Regions from separate parts of the Homo sapiens genome. Here region 1 is linked to region 2. The links come from fine-mapping of genetic effects on gene expression. A gene starts in region 2. The other region holds a variant in brackets. All regions are shown on one strand. Distances are between the middles of the regions. Region 1 overlaps UBE3B (ubiquitin protein ligase E3B). Region 2 holds the start of MVK (mevalonate kinase).

Region 1 (10,098 bases), 65 kb after region 2:
ATCTGGGTCAATCCAGTATGGGGTGGAGATAGCAGAAGACACAGAAACAGAACTAAAGAGACAGAAGTGACCACAGAAAGCCTGGACAGGGCTCTGGATTTCTATGGGGCATGGAAGAAAGTCTGAGGCAAGCTTATCCAGGCTGCAAGGGCTGGGCAACCTCAGCGACTGCAGTGGACAGTTGGGTACGGATCATTCTCCCCATTCTACAGATGAAGACCTTACTCACCCAAGGCTACACAGTTGGTGGGCAGGGGGATGGAATGAAATCCAAAGCCCAGACACAGCCCCCATACTACAAAGCCTCTGCCCACTCCACACCTCTTAGGCCTTCTGGGTAAACACAAAAGGCAGAGAGGACTTAAGGGCCAGCCAGGGGATGAGTCACACATAAACAGGTAAAAGCGATGTAAGAGGGTGCAGAAAATGAAGTGCTGTGCACGTGAGCCAGGCAGAGCTGAGGCTTTAACAAATGTTAAGGAAAACAAGAAAGGCATTATAGTGAAATCGAGAACAAGGGAGAGGTTCAACATTTAGGGCAGATGGTATAATGGTAACAGAGCAGAGAGAGCCTATTACCCTCCTGTGTACTCCAGCAAGAATATTTCAATGGCAGAGGGCAGCACACATGCCACTAAGGGGAGCTTGAAGCTTGAGATGGGCGGAGGGGCAACAAGACAGCCCATCTGCTCTGAAAACACCAAGCCTTAGATACTCCCCCAGGACCTGCAATCACGGAGCAGGAAGGGGCAGGAGATGACGAGGGCCCCATTTTCCTGAGGGAGGACATTTTATGAACTAAGGACAAACAACCTTGATGACATATTTAAGCAAAATTCCCAAAAGAAAAAAAAAATGTGGGGATTACTATATACCCTGGACTTAAAAGTCATTCCAATTTATCTCAGCGGTTCCCTGACTTTCTTATTCACAGCACCTCTATCACTGCAGTAACTTTTTTCATGGTACTCCTAGGCCAAAAGAAATCCCTAGCAGTCCTTTTTACTAGGTAGTTAGGTCCCAAATATTTATGTCCTAAGACCTCAGTTGCTGTATTTTACAAATGCACATACTTTGAAATATAAAATATTTTTATTTTGTTCTTACAAGCCAGCTTTGCAAACATCATTAAAAAGAATGTAGTGCAATCTCATGTTGAAACCACGAACTACTCTGAACTAGCAGTTCATGTGGTGTCTCACTGTGTTCTCCTCAGAAATTTAAAATATTGTGCAGCACCTCCAGTGGCCACAGCACACGTGAACCACAGAGAAACAGAGCGGAGGGTCTAGACGATGTGTTATGGGAATGCAATGGTCAGAGGCTGATTTCACAGACACGCGGGTCCAGGAGGAGGGGCTGCATTTTAAACCAGACACCACCAAACCAGATGAGGCCCAGGAGATGAAGGCTGGAGCCTATTTCAAACAAAGACGAGGTGGAGAGGCTAAGGATACTACACTTGGAAAACACAAGCCCCACATGCAAACGGGAGCTGCCAACAGATCACAGAAGATAAAAGAAGCCACTTTTAGGGGTTGTTCAAGGACCAAAGGGTAGAAGTTACAGAGAAGCACAGTTCATGATGAGGAAGAATGTTCTATCTTTTGGAAAAGTAAAGCCACAGAACAGCCTGTTTTGCAAAGCTGTGCATTTTCTATTGGAAGCAAGGTCAGGGACATCATAGCAGGGGCTCCCTCAAGGAAGGCACATTTGATTAAGTAATTGCCGTAAGGCCCTTCACTTCTGAGAGTTTGCCAAGTGCAGTAAGAATTTAAACAGCCACATTGTTTGCACATCACTGCTTGAGGGGGAAAGAATAGCAACCATAAGTATTAAAGTCAAGGACAGAACAGTATCAGACAGCAGTGAGGATGAAATACCTCTGAAAAATGAGATTTAATTTACAAAAATATGATTTATGCTCTTTTCTAAAAATATGTCTACTTCGTTAAAAAAAGAAAAAGAAAATAGAACAGGAGAAAAATAAAGGACACAACCTAGACTCCTAGAAGACTCTTCTAAGAGGAGCTGAGTGTTGTCGCAGCATCGGACATTTCCAGAGTGCCTGCCACTCACCAGGGACGTGAGCCATGCTTGCTACCCTCATTTCCTGGATGCTCCTGCCACAGCCCAATCCTCCCCAAGTCTCTCTCATCCCCCGGGTGTGTGGCACTCTCCTGGTTTCCCTCCTTCCCTCCTCGTGTTGGCCCTCTGTGGGACGGGTCCTGCAGGGCTCTGCCTCAGTGCCCTGGACTTCTCACTCCGTCTGACTCCCCAACCACCTCGCCCAGGTTATGGGGGGAGTCAGCAGACTTGGGTGCTGTCTGATTCCCTGACTACCTCACCCAGTCCATGGGGGCAGTCAGGAGATTTGGGTGCTCTCCCCACACAAGCTCCTCCCTCCTGAATGCCAGACCCCCTTTCCAATGGCTTCCAGGAGCCAGAGACATCTCACATCCTACCTGCTCGATGCTGAACTCGCCGCCATGTCCCAGTCCTGCTCTTCCACCTCAGGAAAACACCCCCCAAGTACCCAAGCCAGACACCCGAGCATCACCTGAATTCTTCCTTTCTTTCCCCTTGGGATGTGACCATTCTCTGAGGCCTCCTTAAAAATCTCTTGACTTGCTCATCTTTTGACTCCCAGGGCCCACCCTAGTGCAGGACAGCTTGCTTTAACACCCCTGCCTCTAGCCAGCCCTCCACGCTGCAGCCAAGATGACCTTCCTGAAGTATGGCTCTGACCAGGTGCCTCCTAAGCTTCCAGCCCTCCGGTGGCTTTGCAGAAAGCCCTTGCTCCCAGCCTTGGTTTCTAAGGCTGTCTTGCTCTAGTTCCTACTACCCTCCTCGGCTTCCTCTTGACCCCATCCTTTCTATTCTCTCCAGCCACACTGCACATTTGACTCTCCAAAAGCACCTCATCCTTTCTAACTCAGCCTTTCAACACTGTCCACTTTTGCCCGTGGGACCCTTTCCTGTCCCCTTTCCCTCCCTCCAGCTGGTCAGGTCTCCGTACCTGGGCTGCCACTCCACCAGCATCGCCAGTTCACACTGTCTTCTCCAGCTCTGTACCCCAGCACTGGGTGTAACCTCACCAAAGTAATAGCAACCACCGTTTCCTTGTGCTGAATGAATGATCCCACTTAGTCACCTCCAATTGCCATAGCAAGGATGGAAAGGCAGGAACCACGTGGGGGAATAGAAAGACACATCGGGGCCCAGCTCTGAGTGCAACTCACGTTTTTGTGAGGGATGACATGTGGGATGTACTGCAGGATCAACTGTGCCCGTTTTCTGTCCCTGTCGAGTTCTTGGAAGAGCACGCTAGGTTTGAGATCCCTTGAGAAGAAAGACATGGGTTTGGGAGAATTAAAAGAAGGAAACCATCCTCTAGTGTGAGGCTGGGAAATGACACCATGTGGGCCACATGCAGGGTGCTGTCTGTTTCTCAAGAGTCTGATGGGAACATGACCATACTCATTCATACATGTATAGCCTATGGCAGCTTTTGTGCTACAAGAGCAGAGTTGAGTAGCTACAACAGAGACTGTCTGGTCCACAAAGCCTAAAGTCATCTGGCCCTTTACAGAAGTTTGCCAGTCCCTGCTCTAGTGCCACAGCTTCAGCAGTTGCCATAAAGCTTGAACTCATTGATAAAAATGCAGATACATGCCTATGTTCAGTTGTGATAGGAGGATTTCCCCCACCCCATTACTCTCCAAAAAACCTAAAAGCAGTTTTTACTCTAGTAATTCTGCTAATAAAAACTGCCTTTTAACTCTCATGCTCTGTTGCTCAGCTCAGCTAAAAGACCTCTTCCTAGTTTGGATGAGAAATGTATGCTAAATATAATCTGGCTCTGTTGCCATTAATTAACTCTAATCATATTTGGTGTAAACATCTCTTAACAGAAGCGTCCTGACAGGTGCTTCACAGGGACAGCAGCTCTCTTTACACAAATGAACAGACAAAATGAAGCAGAGGGAAAAAGTCCTCTCTGCCCTAGAACATGAGAGCTGAGTGCTCGGGCAGCGTGCCGGAGCAGGCTGGCTTCCATGGAGCCCTCCTCACCCCTGGAGCTCACTTTCGCAGCCAGTGGTCCTCGGGGGTGAAGCGCCGCCGGCAGTCCCGCTC[G/A]TACAGCACCATAAGCCACCCGTGGACAGACTGGAACAGCTCCAAGGTCTCACCCTTGGCGTTCTCTGTGGGACAAACAAACAGGAAAGTCAGAGGAGGAGTCAGAGCCAGAGAGCAAGGGGAGGACAGCTCTTGTCTTCCGCAGTTGTCATCAAGTCCTTGATCTCCCTCGCTCTGAATTATATGTGGAACCGACAGAATTAAAAGGCACCCTGGGTAAGTGCTAAGTGTCTGCAGGGCCTGAGTACCTCTCAGACAAAATCACTCATGCTGCCTCCCACTAGTGTGTCATCCGAAGGGCCTTTTAAGTCTAAGGAGCTTTGTCCTGAGCAATTGGAGACACTTCGGGAGGTGGACTCTCATCTCAAGTGTGCACTGGCACATGTTTTATCTTCACGGAAATCAAATGGAAGAATCAACAGGAGATTCAGGGCAAAATTAATCATCATTAATAATCCTCGACACATACATGCAAATCCTGAAGGGAGCCTGGGAGAGCAAGACTTCTATAACCACACCACTATCTTAAGAAGTCACAGAGAGTGAAGAAAGAAAATTTCCAATTGTGGGAATAAATGTGCACCTTCTATTAACTTGGAGAGACAATAAAGCTAAGAATCAGTTGATGCCATAGACTCTTCGGCCTCCCTGGGTGCAGCATCAACCAAACAACAGCAGACACCTTTTCTCTTACCTACAATTCCATCCCAGATCATCTTAAACACAAAAGAATTCAGGAAAGAGGAGATAGTGACCAGCTCTTCCAGTTTGAATGAAATCTGTTCTTCATAAACTTCAATGTCATCAAGGATTCTAAATCAGAGAGAAAATTACCCACAATTCCACACTGAAAAAAGGCGAAGAGAAAAAAAATCTGTACTGCTTACTAGACAATAAACGAGGTTGAGAAATAAGCTTTATCTTGTAGAGATACTTACTGTAAAATCTACAGATAAAATGATATGATATCATCAGGGGTAGGGGGAAAGGGGAGGGAGAGCCTTAGGACAAATACCTAATGCATGTAGAGCTTAAAACCTAGATGACGGGGTGACAGGTGCAGCAAACCACCACAGCACATGTATACCTATGTAACAAACCTGCACTTTCAGCACATGTATCCTAGAACTTAAAGTAAAATAAAATAAAAATAAAATGAAAAAAATGATATGATGTCTAGGATTTGCTTCAAAATAATGTGGGAGAGAAAAGCAGGTGGGCATTTGGATGAAGCAAAACTGGCTGTGAGGTGGTACTGTTGAAGCTGATAATGGGCACATGAGGGTTCATTATATTATCCTTTCTACTTTCTATTAATTTGAAATCGACCATAGTAAAAAGTTAAAAAATACAATTAAGAAAAAATCTGTACTCTATATTTTTCTTATTCATAAGGATCTGACTGTGACACTTTCTTAATTCACACCTCAATTCACGCCTTCCTTATTCATGTCTGCATATCAAGGAACATTGACTGAGAGTCGATGTTTACTGAGGAAAGCTGCAGAATCTTTTCGATATCTAAGACACATACTAGTGACACTTAGCAGGTACTTAGTAAGCATTTGTGAGTAAATGAATAAATGTTTGAAAGAACATATGAATAAATGAGCCATTTAAGACACAGCTCTATCTGAACATTTCCTAACACTGCTCCATACACTAGAATAAGATTCACTCTTGGCTTACCCCCATCCAGTGATTAAGGATGTCTTCACCAGCAGCTAGACCCCTGCTCTTGCCTCCAACTGCTCAGTGAGTTCTTCCATGATCCTCACCCAATCTGCCACCTACATGTCCCTGATCCTCTCCGGCTAAAGTCTTCCAGCCTGAACATAACTGCCTGAGGTCCATTGTATCTTATAATTCTTCACCAACCTTTTGGGAAAAGGTGGAATGAAAAGAATACCAAACACACAAGATGCATAAGCTTAAAAACCAAAGGAACTAAATGGGACTAATGTTTGTTAATTTCCCACTCTGTGCCAGGCACTGCACTAAGTATTTGACGCTGTTTTTTTCACTTACCCTCTATTGAACTGGTAATATTCTCTTCATTCTAATGAGGAAATAGAGACTCAAAGAGGTTAAGAAACTTGCTCAGGGTCGGCTTGATAATAATAAGAGCCAACAAGTACTGAACTCATCCTATGTGCCAGGGACTGTGATAAGCACTTTGCAATAATTATGTCTTTTAATCCCTACCATGTGCCTAAAAGGTATGTGCTATTGTCATTCCCATTTACAGATGAGTCAACTGAGTCTCAGAGAGGTTGAATCCGTGATCCCTTGCCCAGGGTGTCTCAAGATCTGCTTAGCAAGGATCTGCACCCTGGCTCTGACTTTGGAATTTTCCAGGAATCTAGCTAGCACAGTGAATAAATGGCTGAGCCATGATCTAAACCCATCTCCAGGAGACCCCAAGCCACAGCCAGTGGTACTGATCAGCTTCCTTGAAAGGATGGGAACTTTTAACTCCCAGGCCCCACCCTAACAACTGCTGAACATTTACTGCACACTGCTCACTTGGTAAATGGCTAGTTCTTACAATGCCCTGCCACACAGGTCCAAATGTTTGCAGTAATCACATTAGCAATTACTTCCTTACTGACACTGTATTTTGGTCTCTCCATATTCTAGGAAAGGAATTCAGTCCCACAGCAGTCAACCTACGTGATGAGGTGCCGCGAACAGTCACAGAACAGCATCAGCATGGCCAAGAGTTGCTTGGACTCTTCAGTGTCATTGTTCAGGCATTCCAAGAAGAGCTTTAACCCTCCGTGGGGCCCGAGCTCACAGATAAATGCCCACAGTTTGGGAAGCAGGTCATCAAGGTAAGTGAGACCTGGAAAAAACACAGAGAAACCCAAGCTTCAGGTGGAGACTCCACCTGGTCTGTTATTTCTCCTATCCAGTGGGGAAACAAAACACTTAAACCTATCCATGAACATTTAATGTGCGTGAAAAGAAGGTGGGATTATGGAGAAAAGCATTATCACCACGAGAGTAACAATGATAAGAGCCAGTAGTCAGTGGGTGCTGACTATGTGCCAGGCACCATTCTAAGCACTCCGTATGTATTGTTTGCTTTCCATTTTCTGAAGCCCAGTGTTATCCCCATCTTATACAGGAGGAAACTGAAGCACAGAAAGGTTAAATAATTGGCCCCAAATCACACAGCCTGTATGTCAGAGCCAGGAATAGAACTCAGGTCTGACTTAGCATTTATGCTTTAAATCAGGGATCAGCAATTTGTTTCAGGAAACAGCCAAAGAGTAAATATTTTTAGGCACTGTGGGCCAGAAGGTCTCTGCTGTTAAATTAAATCTAGCCAAGTCTGAGCAAAAAACAATTCATCCATCAGGCAGCCCTCAGAACCAGACGAGGTTCAGACAGCTCCAGTCCACATTCTGGGCAGGCAACATTTAGGGGCAAAACTGAAGTGAGGTACAGAGACAGCTTGACTGGTTACACCTCGGCTTTGCCTTATTTGAATGTGGTCTAATCAGATGGCCACCTGTGATTGATTGAAGCTAGGCTGCTGTGATTGGCAGCTATTTGTTACAAAAATACTGAATAGTCCTAAGTTAGACTTCTAGTCAGTTTACATACTAAGTTAGGCTGCAGTTCCTTACTTAAGGACTCAAAATATGGAGGCATCCTCAGGCCAAATTTAGTCTAACACTGTTACAACTACTCAGTGCTACCACTACAGCACAAAAGCGGCCACAGACAATGTGTAAAGAAACAGATTTGGCAGCCCGGTGCTGTGGCTCACGCCTGTAATCCCAGCACTCTGGGAGGCTGAGGCGGGTGGATCATCTGAGGTCAGGAGTTTGAGACCAGCCTGGCCAACATGATGAGAAACACTGTCTCTACTAAAAAATACAAAATCAGCCGGGCGTGGTGGCCAGCACCTGTAATCCCAGCTGCTCAGGAGGCTGAGGCAGGAGAATCGCTTGAACCTGGGAGGCAGAGGTTGCAGTGAGCCGAGATCGCACCACTGCACTCTAGCCTGGGCGACAAGAGCGAAACTCTGTCTCCAAAAACAAAAACAAAAACAAAAACAAAACAGATTTGGGTCTGTTCTAGTAAAAATTTATTGACAAAAACAAGTAGTGGGCTGGATTTGGCCCCCCAACAGTAGTCTGCTGACCCTTGCCTTAAACCATCTTGCAGGCTCGCCACCTTTGGCAAAGCTTCCCCCCACTTACCTCTATTATTCTATTATGTTAAAAGTGGAAATGCAGTCAATGACTGTGGTAGGATGCTCTGAACTATACAAAAATGGAACCCTGAGGAAGCAAAAGGGGACACAGAGGACTTTCTAAATTTGTTTCCTGATGGCTACAAGGCCTTAGACACACAGGCCACATCACGGGTATAGTTTACATCTAATAACACATCTCTTGACTTAGAAAGGCTGGATCTGAAATGCCATGTGTCACTGAATATACATTAAGGTGTGTTCCTCAGAAAAGCACAGTCACCTTGTATACGAGCCCTTACAATACCTCTCATCTTATAGGGCACTCTCTGAATTATTTAGTTTTGAATAAAGAACTGTTTGGGGAAGGTATATTAGCCAGCAGTGGGAGTTGGGGGAACTCCATCAGAGCTACTGAAGGATACTTAGAGGGTGAACTGAAGGAATTCTAAAGGAGGCCAAGAATTGTATCAATTTAGTGATTATGCCTAGAGCTTAGACCTCACATTTTCAAGGGTAGGAGGATGTGGTTATAAAGAAGCCTTTAGAAGCAAGACTTTCTTGATCTGTTGGTGATGACATAGGTGCCCCACTCATAACTAGTCTTTCAACTGTCCATGTTATATCAAACACACCCAAGAATGTGGAACTCTCACAATTCAAAAATAGGTTAAAATAGAAACAGAGGAAACAGTTAACACTGTGGAGATCACAAATATACTCCTATGGGATAAAAGAAGAAAAGCAAGTGTCCTCGAGTTCTGTGTAAAGGACTCATGTAGCGTAGACTAGAATGCTCATAGCATCACACACTGATTCAACAAGGGCTGCATATCTAGCCATTTAGACAGAGATGGAGACACTGGGCCTGGCAGAGCAATGGCAGACAGACCAGCAGCAGTGCCAGTGCTATCAGATGTGTGTGAGGAGCACAAACAGACACTTCCTAAGTTGTCAGTAGAAAAACAGCAGTATTTTAAAAACAAGCGTTATTTTCTATAATCTAAGTTGCTAAATAGACTGAATATCAAACATACACTTTAGACTAGTTTATCTTTATCCTTAAAGTGTATATTTTCAAGTTGACTAAAAAACCTGTATTTGGATTCTCTCACTTGGGAAAATGAGCTTCAATGTGAGCTCATTTAAAAAGCTGGACACACAGGAGATCGAGACCATCCTGGCTAACACAGTGAAACCCCGTCTCAACTAAAAATACAAAAAAAAAATTAGCCGGGCATGGTGGCAGGCGCCTGTAATCCCAGCTACTCGGGAGGCTGAGGCAGGAGAATGGCGTGAACCTGGGAGGCGGAGCCTGCAGTTGAGCCGAGATTGCGCTACTGCACTACAGCCTGGGCGACAGAGTGAGACTCCGTCTCGAAAAAAAAAAAAAAAGCTGGACACAAACCACAACCCCAAACTCCTCTCACTCAAGATGCTGCTCAAACCCTCAGGCGCTGGGGTACCCCAGGTATGGTCTTGCCCCTTCTCTCCTCCCTCTGCTCATCTTTGGGAAACCTGCCCTAGGCTGAAAGCCCATGGCTTTACACTCCATCCCTCAGCTGATGCTCCCAGAGTGTCACCTCTGCCAGCATGCCCAGCAGGCCCCTTTCCCTTGTCACAGCCACAACACAACAGACTCCTCACAGGCCCTGCCCCCGGTCTTCTCCAGCTCAGCAAACAGTGCTACCATCCACACAGGTGGTTGGGCCAACAACCTGGTATCTTCTTTAAAACCCTCAGTCCTCATGCTC
Region 2 (9,784 bases):
GGGCCACTTTCCTCTGAGACACTGAGAAGGCAGAGCCTTTCTGGCCAGCTCACCTTTACAAATCACTCGCTGAGCCTCAGGTCACATTCTCAAGGGACTGGGAAATGGAATTGGGCATGCGTGTGTTAGGAAACTTCGGGCACTGGTTAAGTACTGGGTAAATGTGTGTTGAATGGATTAATGATATACTCAAATGGCCAAGTCATGGCATCATTGAGAACCCAGGTATTTCAGAGCTTTGTAATCGAGATGGAACAGCTGTTAAGAGCCTGGACTTTGGGGCTAGGAGAAACCTGGGTCTGAATCCTTTCAGTGTCACCAACAAGTGTAACCTGAGCCACTTGACCTCTGAACTTTAATTTTCAGATCTGTACAATGGGGATGAATACCACCACCTACTTCCAGGGAATGCTGGCGAATTCTAAGAGTGCTAACATATGTGAACACACTTAGTGCCTGGCACACGTAAGTGCCCAATAAGTGTTCACTGTAGTAGCACGGTGCAGTGGTATGTGCTTATATTCCCAGCTACTCGGGAGGCTAAGGCAGAAGAACACTTGAGCCCAGGAATTTGGGACCAGCCTGGGCAACATAGTAAGACCCTGCCTCTTAAAAAAAAAAAAAAAGTTCAATGTTTATTACTATCAGGAGGGAGCAAAAGGACACTGAAAGAAAGATGGTAGATCTTTGCAACCTAGAAGATAGTATGTCTCCCAGAGCTCCAAAACTAACAAGCCCTTCCCTACATAATGCACTCTGTGTCGCACCCCTAATGCCTGCCTCCAGTGTCGTCGGATCCTCATGGCAGCCCTCAGTCAGGAAACATGTCTCTGCTCCGAGGCCCAGAGGATGAAGTGACCTGCCCCAGGTTCACTGAGGGAGTTGGAGTGGTCTGAGACATGTTCCCCCATACCTGGCTGCTTCCACCCCAAGCTACTGACATACACAAGTTGCAGCTGGTTCTCAGGAGACATTTCTGGTCTGGCTGGGTGGCCCTGTGCACCTTGGAAAGCAAGTTCCATGTGCTCTGGCTGGTTGTTTTCAGATGCACGCTCCAAAGGAGTGGCTTTTAACTGAGGTGTCCCCAGAATCACCCAAGGAACCCCTTTCAAAAACTCCTACCACCACTACCAACTCCCAATAAGAGAGGGGCGGAGCCAGGAGCCCATCCATCTGTATTGGTTAAAAAAAACCACCACCACCATCACAAAAAACTCCTGGGTGATTCCAAGATATGATGAAGTTAAAAAGGGCTGCTCTAAAATGAGGATTTTGGCTGGGCACAGTGGCTCTCACCTGTAACCCCAGCACTTTGGGAGCCCAAGGTGGGAAAGTGGAAAACTGCTTGAGCCCAGGAGTTCCAGACCAGCCTGGGCAACACAGTGAGACCCCATCTCAACAAGTGAAATGAGAATTTTCAACTCTTCCTCCATCCCCATACGGCATATGGGAGTGACTGTGGTTTCTCATGGGGAATGGGAAGCAGGTGTCAAGGGTTCAGGTGCAGTGTAAGGAAAAAACCCAAAAAGATTCTCATTTACCCCATCCTGGCTGAGAAACACTGTTCCAAAGAGCAAGGCTTCATTCAGCCCAGGGAGCAGACAGTAAACTGACAACAGAGAAAACACACGTCAGCTCTGGGGCAGGTACAGGGGACTCCACTGATGGAAAAAGCTGGCCTGCTTATGAGTGGATGAAATCTTCACAGTGCTGTCAAAAATCAGCACACACACGTGACACACAAAGAAAAAATCAGTACTTCTGAATGGTTTATATGGCCTGACCCAATTTTGGTTAAAAAACCAAGATATCTCCCTGTCTCTATCAATCTTTCTATCAATCTACAGAAAATCACCCAGAAGGATTAATGCCTAAATGCTTAGAGTCATTACTGGGGTCAGGGAAAGGAGAAGGGAAATAATAGGTGATTTTTAAAATTACAATGTCCCAGTATTGACTATATTTTCCAATAATAAGCATAGGTAACTTGTACTTTTATTAAATTTTTTTTTTTTTTTTTGAGATGGAGTCTTGCCCTGTCCCCCAGGCTGGAGTGCAATGGCGCAATCTTGGCTCACTGCAACCTCTGCCTCCCAGGTTCAAGCGATTCTCCTACCTCAGCCTCCTGAGTAGCTGAGATTACAGGTGTGTGCCACCACACCCAGCTAATTTTTGTATTTTTAGTAGAGACATGGTTTCGACATGTTGGCCAGGCTGGTCTCGAACTCCTGACCTCAGATGATCCGCCCGCCTTGGCCTCCCAAAGTGCTGGAATTACAGGCATGAGCCACTGTGCCTGGCCTACTTTTATCAATTTTTAATTATACAAAATGCCAATATATTCTCCTTATTTAAAACATGTGTCACTTTGTCTACTCTCTGGCCCTAGGTCTCTCCCAGGAGAACTAATCACCACTGCCAATCTGATGTCTATGCCCCCGAGACCTTTTCTATCATTTATACACATATTTATACTTAAATACGTATGTTTGCTGTTTTGCATTTTTTTCACTCAACAATAGGCCTTGATGATCTGTCCACAACAGCCCACAGAGATCCAATGCATTGTTTTACACCTATAAATTTTAAAAAAATAAAATGAGTGAAGCTAATTTTATGAGGTCAGGGTAGAAAACACCCGGGAAATAGCTGGCCCCTGGCTCCCTTGGGGACAGCCCAGAATACCTGGCCAGCTGCCCTCTCTGTAGGCTCTTAGCACACCTGGTTTCTCCTCCTTGCACTCACCCAGAAAGCTTGTGTCCAGTGACTGAAGCCTGGCCACATCCCAGGCCCGCTTGATACCAATGTTGGGTAAGCTGAGGTCCACTTTCCCATTGCTGTGGGGTTGAAGCCGGAGGAATGTTCTCAAGTTCAAGGATACAGCCAGTGCTACCTATAGAATAAATGACAAAAGCAATAAGCCTGAGGGTGAGTGGCAAAGGGGCCAGGACCCACGTGCTAAGAAGAGAGCAAACATAAGCACAGAGGCCACTCCTAGCCATGCCCTTGCCAGACACTGCTAATCAACCTTGGCATGCTCTCCCACTAAGCCTGGGAACAGCCACCATCGATCAGCTAAAAGTTAAAATCCACTTTGCCTTCTGCCTGCAAAATTTCAGAGGTTCTCAATACCAAGGAATCACTTCCCCATAATCACCATGTTTTCAATGAGAAATATAAGAACATAAAGAATAGCAGTGAGAAGCCAGGTGTGGTGGCTCATATCTGTAATCCCAGCACTTTGGGAGGCCAAGGCAAGAGGATCACTTGAGCCCAGGAGTTTGAGACCAGCGTAGTGTCAGACCACGTCTCTACAGAAAAATAAAAGAAAAAAATTAGTGGGGCATGGTGGTACACACCTGTGGTCCCAGCTACTTGGGAGGCTGAGGTTGGAGGCTGCAGTGAGCCATGATCGCAAGATTGCACTCCGGTGACAGAGCAAGACTGTCTCAGGAAAAAAAAAAAAAAGCAGAGTGCAGCAGAGGTGGTTTCAGACAGACTTAGGTTCACACCAAGCTCTACCAAGGTATATAGGACTTGGATCAAGTTACCACTTCTCTCCTAAGCCTCAGTTTGCACATTTGTAAAATAGGATAATAAAAGGGTATGCCTTGGGGGTAGCTGTAAGGGTAAAATGAGATAATGGATGTTTTCAACTCCTTTGCTAGATCATCCTTCCAACTTCTAAATGTCTTAGTGCCCCGGAGCTCAGTTCTCAAACCTCTTTCCTTCTGCATCAAAGCTCACTCCTAGGTGATCTCATTCCACTCACAGGGCTTTATATTATAATCATCTTTTTGCTATCATACCGAGCGAGGCCCAAGAATCCCTTCAGTGGGCATAAGAAATCTTTTCCTTGCCTGGCTGGGGAGAACCTGATCTCTCTGATCTGCTCCCAAGCTGTGCCTCAGGGTGTCCTTTTACCTTCTTACAAAATTAGCATCAGGGAGAAGGGGTACCCAATCCTTAAAGGCTCTAACGGCTTTGTACCTTGCCATGTACCACGGCATGTTCTCCATGAAGGATGACTTTCCCCGGAGCAGACACCAGTAGGACTTCTGACAACATGGCTCCTGGGAATCCTAAAAGGGAAAGCCAATGAGAAGAGCAAAGATCTCTAGATGTCAGAACCAGCAGGAAGAGATCTTAGAACACCTAGTTCAAGCCCATCATAATAACAAAAAAGGTAGTTACCGTCCAGCACTTGCTACGTACCAGAAAGGCAATGCAGGAGTCAACTGGACACATCCAACAGATCTGGGTTCAAATGCCAGCTCTTCCACTCCCCAGTGATGTCATCTTAGTTAACTCACTTAAATGGCTAAGAACCTCGGTTTCCCCACACGTTATATGGAGAGAAAATAACCGTACCTACCTCGGTGGATGTTAGGAAGGTTAAATTAACGCAAGGGAAACACTTGGCGGTGTCTGGCACCTACTAATCATTCAATTACTGAGAGCTACTTATTACTGGCTCTGTTCTTCGTTTCAGCTTTTACAACTACTACTATTAAAGGTAGAAATTACATGAAATCATGGAGCAGAAAGAACTCTTTGCTGGACATTTAGGCTGTTTCCAATGTGTCACAATTATAAACAAGGCTGCAGAAAACACCCAGTACGCCTCGTTTTGCACACTTAAATGAGTATTTCTGCAGGACAGAGTCCTAGAAAGGAGCTTGCAGGGTCTATAGGTGTGTGCAATTTACACTTTTATACATAACGCAAAATTATCCTCCGCTTAAGGCTTTACGTAGATTACCTTACGCTAAGATTCAGGTGTACTATGAGCTAAGTACTATCGTGATCCCCATTTCTTAGAAAAACTGAGGCTCAGAGCGGGGAATCCCCTTGCTTGTCAAGCTCAAAATCACGACTGTCAGATTGAGGTCGCCGATCCCTCGGGGCAAGACTCTCAGAGCTGGGTAAACTGAGCCACAGAAGCTGGACGCCTGGCTCAGCGTCGTCCTGGGTCTAGGACCTCGCGCCGCCCGGCCGCCCGACCCCGGCCTCTCACCTGCCGCCGCCGCCGCCTCCCCGGCCGCCGCCCCTCCGCGCCGAAGCCGGAGCAGCTCCCCAACTCCCACAACCCAGAGCGCCCGTGCCTCAAGGGGAGGAGGCGTTGTACTTCAGGCCAGCCAATCAGAGCGCGCGAGCCCGGAGTACCTTTACCAATAGGCTTGAACATTGGTCAATAGGTGTTGCAGCCAAGCCGACACGGGTTTTCCCGCCCCGCTCCTTCCGTTAAACCAATGGGAAACAAGTCCCTGGGAGTGTCCCGCCCTGGGGTGAGAACTGCGAACCAATAAAAATTGAAACCTGAGCGGTGGCGCGGCCAGCTGTGGGTGGAGTCACCCCGCGGACTGGACGGGAACCTGGCGGGGTCAGGTCCCGTCAAGCAGCCTGGCTCATGGCTGTGTGCGGCCTGGGGAGCCGTCTTGGCCTGGGGAGCCGTCTTGGCCTGCGCGGGTGCTTCGGCGCCGCCAGGCTCCTGTATCCCCGTTTCCAGAGCCGCGGCCCTCAGGGCGTGGAAGACGGGGACAGGTGAGTGGCTGGCGGGAAGGGCAACTCGAACACCTGCCGTGAATCGTGGTGTCGTCGCCATGGGTACGTCACACCGCCGTGAGGTCACCGCGGCAACCGTCAGGTGACGTCTCCACGCTGTTCTGACGTCACCATGGCAACGTGGGCCACGTGGGCGCCAGAGACCAGGTAGTCTTTGCCTAAGTCCCAATGAAGTCCCGCTATCATCGGGCAGGGCAGGGCATATCCCATGTGGGCCAGGAGGGCTCTCGACTCAGATTGTGACCAATCTCCAAAGCAGTTTATTCCCCAGGTCCCAGATACACCAGCACCTTCTAAAGATGGCTTTCCTCATATTCCTTGAAACTTGCACCTCAACCCAGACCTCAGAACCTCTAGAGTACCGTGGATTAATAATGGATTAATTTAGTTCACAGATCCAGGAAATTAACCTTCGAATGGGCTTGTAATGTCACATTTTAATTTTGAGCTATGTCCTTGAGTTGTTTACATTGTTTTTTGAAAATGCCACTTTTTGAGCTGTATTTTGGCAATTCTTCATCTCTGAGTACACTCGAAGCCTCATACTATGGAAGTGGCTCAGGTTTCTTTTCCTGCAAGAGGCCCTGAGTTGGTGGAGTATAAGATAAAAATTTGGGTAGGATAGAGTTAAGAGTCCTAGCTACTTGGGAGGCTGAGGCAGAGGATCACTTGAGCTCAGGAGTTCAAGGCTGCAGTGAGCTATGATCATGCCACTGCACTGCATTCCAGCTTAGGCAACAGAGCAAGACCCTGTCTGTGAACAAAATAATCATAGGCCAGATACGGTGGCTCACGCCTGTAATCACAACACTTTGGGAGTTTGAGGCAGGAGTATTGCTTGAGCTCAGGAGTTCAAAACCAGCCTGAGCAACATGGTGAAACCCGTCTCTACCAAAAAAAAAAAAAAAAAAAAATTAGCTGGGTGTGGTGGTATACACCCGTGCTCCCAGCTGCTCGGGAGGCTGAGGTGGGAGGATTGTTTGAGCCTGGGAGGCAGAGGTTGCAGTGAGCCTAGATCGTGCAACTGCATTTCAGCCTGGGTGACAGAGTGAGACCCCATCTCAAAATAATAATAATAATAATAAATAAATAAATAATTTCGGTAGGATAGAAGTTACAGTTTGTGCTCTGGTCTAGGACAGTTTTGGGCATCCCACTCCTGCCTCTTCTTGGATGGTCTAGGAAGGTGTCTCATCTGAGCCATAGTTTCCTCCTCAGTAAAATGAAGAGAATAGGTGTTGGCTACCTTTGGGGTTGTGGAAAGATTCCAGGATAATTCCAGAAGATAATGCCTGTAAACTACTTGGCACAGTGCAGGGACAATGGCAAAGGATCAATCAAGTCCTTCAGCAAATATTTATTGAGCATCTTTGTTGAGCAAGGCATTACATCAGCTACTCTACACACTCTGTCATCCAGCTCTGGTCTTGCCCACAAAATGTTTGCTATTAGAAAGGATCTAGGGGAAAGAAATCAACAAGAGATGACCATCTAAGCAGTAAGGGGTAAGTGCTGCCTCTGAGGTTACAAGCAGCAAGCTGGGACCCTCTGAAGGAGCTGACCCTCTGTGTAAGCCATCCCCACTCACCAGATACTGATGTTTATTTCTCATTAGGCCACAGCCTTCCTCGAAGACACCCAGGATCCCCAAGATTTACACCAAAACGGGAGACAAAGGTAGGGTGGGGACAGGTGAAAAATGCAAAGAAATACTCATGGCATACACCATTTTAAAGTTCTTCCAAATTCTTTGCAGCCACTTTAAAGTATAATATACCAGGCGCGGTGGCTCATGCCTGTAATCCCGGCACTTTGGGAGGCCCTGTTGGGCTAATCATCTGAGGCCAGGAATTTGAGACTAGCCTGGCCAATGTGGTGAAACCCCATCTCTACTAAAAATACAAAAATTAGCTGAGTATGGTGGTCCATGCCTGTAACCCCAGCAGCTACTTGGGAGGCTGAGGCAGGAGAATTGCTTGAACTCGGGAGGCAGAGGTTGCAGTGAGCCAAGATCATGCCACTGCACTCCAGCCTGGGTGACAGAGCAAGACTCCATCTCAGAAAAAAAAAAAGTCTCAGAAAAAAAAAGTATGATATTTGACAGATCTCAAAATATGTTACAAAAATGTAATGTGAAATGAAAAACACCCAAGAGATATTAAATGACAAAAGCCTGAATCTGTCTGGATAAGCATGTACATATATGTGTGTTCAGGTGTGTGTAGAATAGTCTGAAAGGTTACACCTGGGACTGTTCTGGGAGAGAGATTAAGTTGTGAGAGGGGAACAAACAGAAGGACTTTCACTATTTACATACTTTTATTCTATTTTATTATTTTTTATAATGAGTATATATTACTTTAATAGTTTTTAAAATGCTAGAACATGTTATATAGAAAAAAGTAAGATGCAGAAGAATGCGTTGCTATGATCCTTTTTTTTTTTTTTTTTTGATACAGGGTTTTACTCTGTCACCCAGGCTGGAGTGCAGTGGCTCAGTCATGGCTCACAACAGCCTCCACCTTTCAGACTCAAGCAATCCTCCCACCTCAGCCTTCTGAGTATCTGGGACAACAGGCACACATCGCCATGCCTGGCTAATACTTTTTAATTTTTTTTGTAGAGATGAGGTCTTGCTGTGTTGCCCAGGCTGGTCTTGAACTGCTAGGCTCAAGGTATCCTCCCAGCTCAGCCTCCCAAAATGCTGGGATTACAGGAGGCATGAGCTACCGCACCAAGACAGTATACCATTTTTTGTAGTACAAAAGCATGCAGACCACTAGTATGTATTGTTTTTTGGATATATACTTGTATAGTAAAAGTATAAAAGCATGTACGGGACATACTCAGTGCCACTGAATGGTAAACTTAAGAAGGGTCAAAATGGTAAAATTTCTGTTATGTATCATCTGTTACCACAATTAAAAAGAAGGAAGAGGATGTTGGAAAGGACTTATTGTAGGGTTGGGCTTGTGTTGGGTGGTTACAAGGAAGTGGGGCTTTGTTCTGGATTGAATCCTGTTAGGAAGCAGGGCTGTTTCTGTCACTGGGTATCTTTTTTTGTTTTTTGAGACAGGGTCTAGTTCTGTTGCCCAGGCTGGAGTGCAGTGGCACGATCTCAGCTCACTGCAACCTCCTGGGTTCAAGCAATTCTTATGCCTCAGCCTCGCGAATAGCTGGGACTACAGGCATGCATCACCATGCCCAACTAATTTTTTCTGTTTTTAGTAGAGACGGGGATTTGCCATGTTGGCCAGGCTAGTCTCGAACTCCTGGCCTCAAGTGATCTGCCCACCATGGCCTCCCAAAGTCCTGGGATTACAGTGTGAGCCACTGCACCTGGCCTGTAATTGGGTATGTTAATAATTTGTTTCTAGAAGACAGAAGGGACAAAGAGGTGCTAACGCTGTAATGGATAAAGATGCAGCAGTCACTCACATTAGCCAGGGAAGGGGGAGGTTTGGTCATCTTTTGGAGTTTGGACACAGTCGTCTGTGCTCAGACGTTCTTCCGCAGTGGCCTTGTCTTGGTCTCGAACCGTCATAGTCATAGAGTGGCCTGTCTGATGGTTTTCTGTGAAATGGTTTGTGTTCAGCAGAACACCACAGTCTACCTGTGAGTGCCAGGCCGGCACCTGGCAACCCCAAAGCCTGCCCGATAGCGAAAGCCAGCTCCAAACTGTCAGGGGCAGTTTTCACTTTCTCAGAGGTTGGGGGAGAAAGGCGGGACTGTGAGCTAGGCAGAGGCACAGAGGACTTTGACTTCATGTGAAATATAATGGTAATGTATATATGATATAAAATATAGAACGTGTTGTATTTCTTTATCAGGATGGTTAGTATGTGGTTTTTAAGTTGAAAAGCACATCAGGAAAGAAGTGAGCATAGTGGCTAACCCTTGGGGAGTGGCAACTAAAAGGGGTTACATGGGGGCTTTCAGGGTGTTGCTCATGTTCTGTTTATGAAGCTAGGTGCTGATCAAGGAGGTATATTCAGTTAGTAGTAATTCACCAACTTGCACACTTACGATTTGAGCACTTTTCTGTGTATATGCTATATTTCAAGTTGAAAGTTCTTTAAGGGGTGGTACGGTGGCTCATGCCTGTAATCTCAGCACTTTGGGAGGCTGAGGCGGGTGAATCACTTGAGACCAGGAGTTCAAGACTAGCTCGGCCAACATGGGCGAAAACCCGTCTCTACTAAAAATACAAAAATTAGCC

Evidence for each region. PIP is the estimated chance that this variant, and not a neighbour inherited with it, causes the effect.
Region 1: its variant is the best candidate, but not a certain one, in a credible set for the expression of MVK in whole blood (INTERVAL, PIP 0.78).

The regions. Positions count from the first base shown.
Region 1 is chr12:109,504,448-109,514,545 of GRCh38, reverse strand. UBE3B (ubiquitin protein ligase E3B) reads right to left here. Exons shown (of 28, transcript NM_130466.4): 15 at 6,811-6,982; 16 at 4,832-4,950; 17 at 4,088-4,202; 18 at 3,243-3,342. Among named protein-coding and RNA genes, the nearest start is that of UBE3B, 32 kb to the right of the region's middle. The variant G/A (reference allele first, on the strand shown) is at 4,138.
Region 2 is chr12:109,569,107-109,578,890 of GRCh38, reverse strand. MVK (mevalonate kinase) reads right to left here and starts at 5,097. Exons shown (of 11, transcript NM_000431.4): 1 at 5,018-5,097; 2 at 3,991-4,082; 3 at 2,746-2,893. The coding sequence starts at 4,068. It overlaps MMAB (metabolism of cobalamin associated B), which reads left to right and starts at 5,387. Exons shown (of 9, transcript NM_052845.4): 1 at 5,387-5,544; 2 at 7,181-7,242. The coding sequence starts at 5,411. RefSeq lists silencers at 4,857-5,086, 5,107-5,236 and enhancers at 4,996-5,495, 5,496-5,997.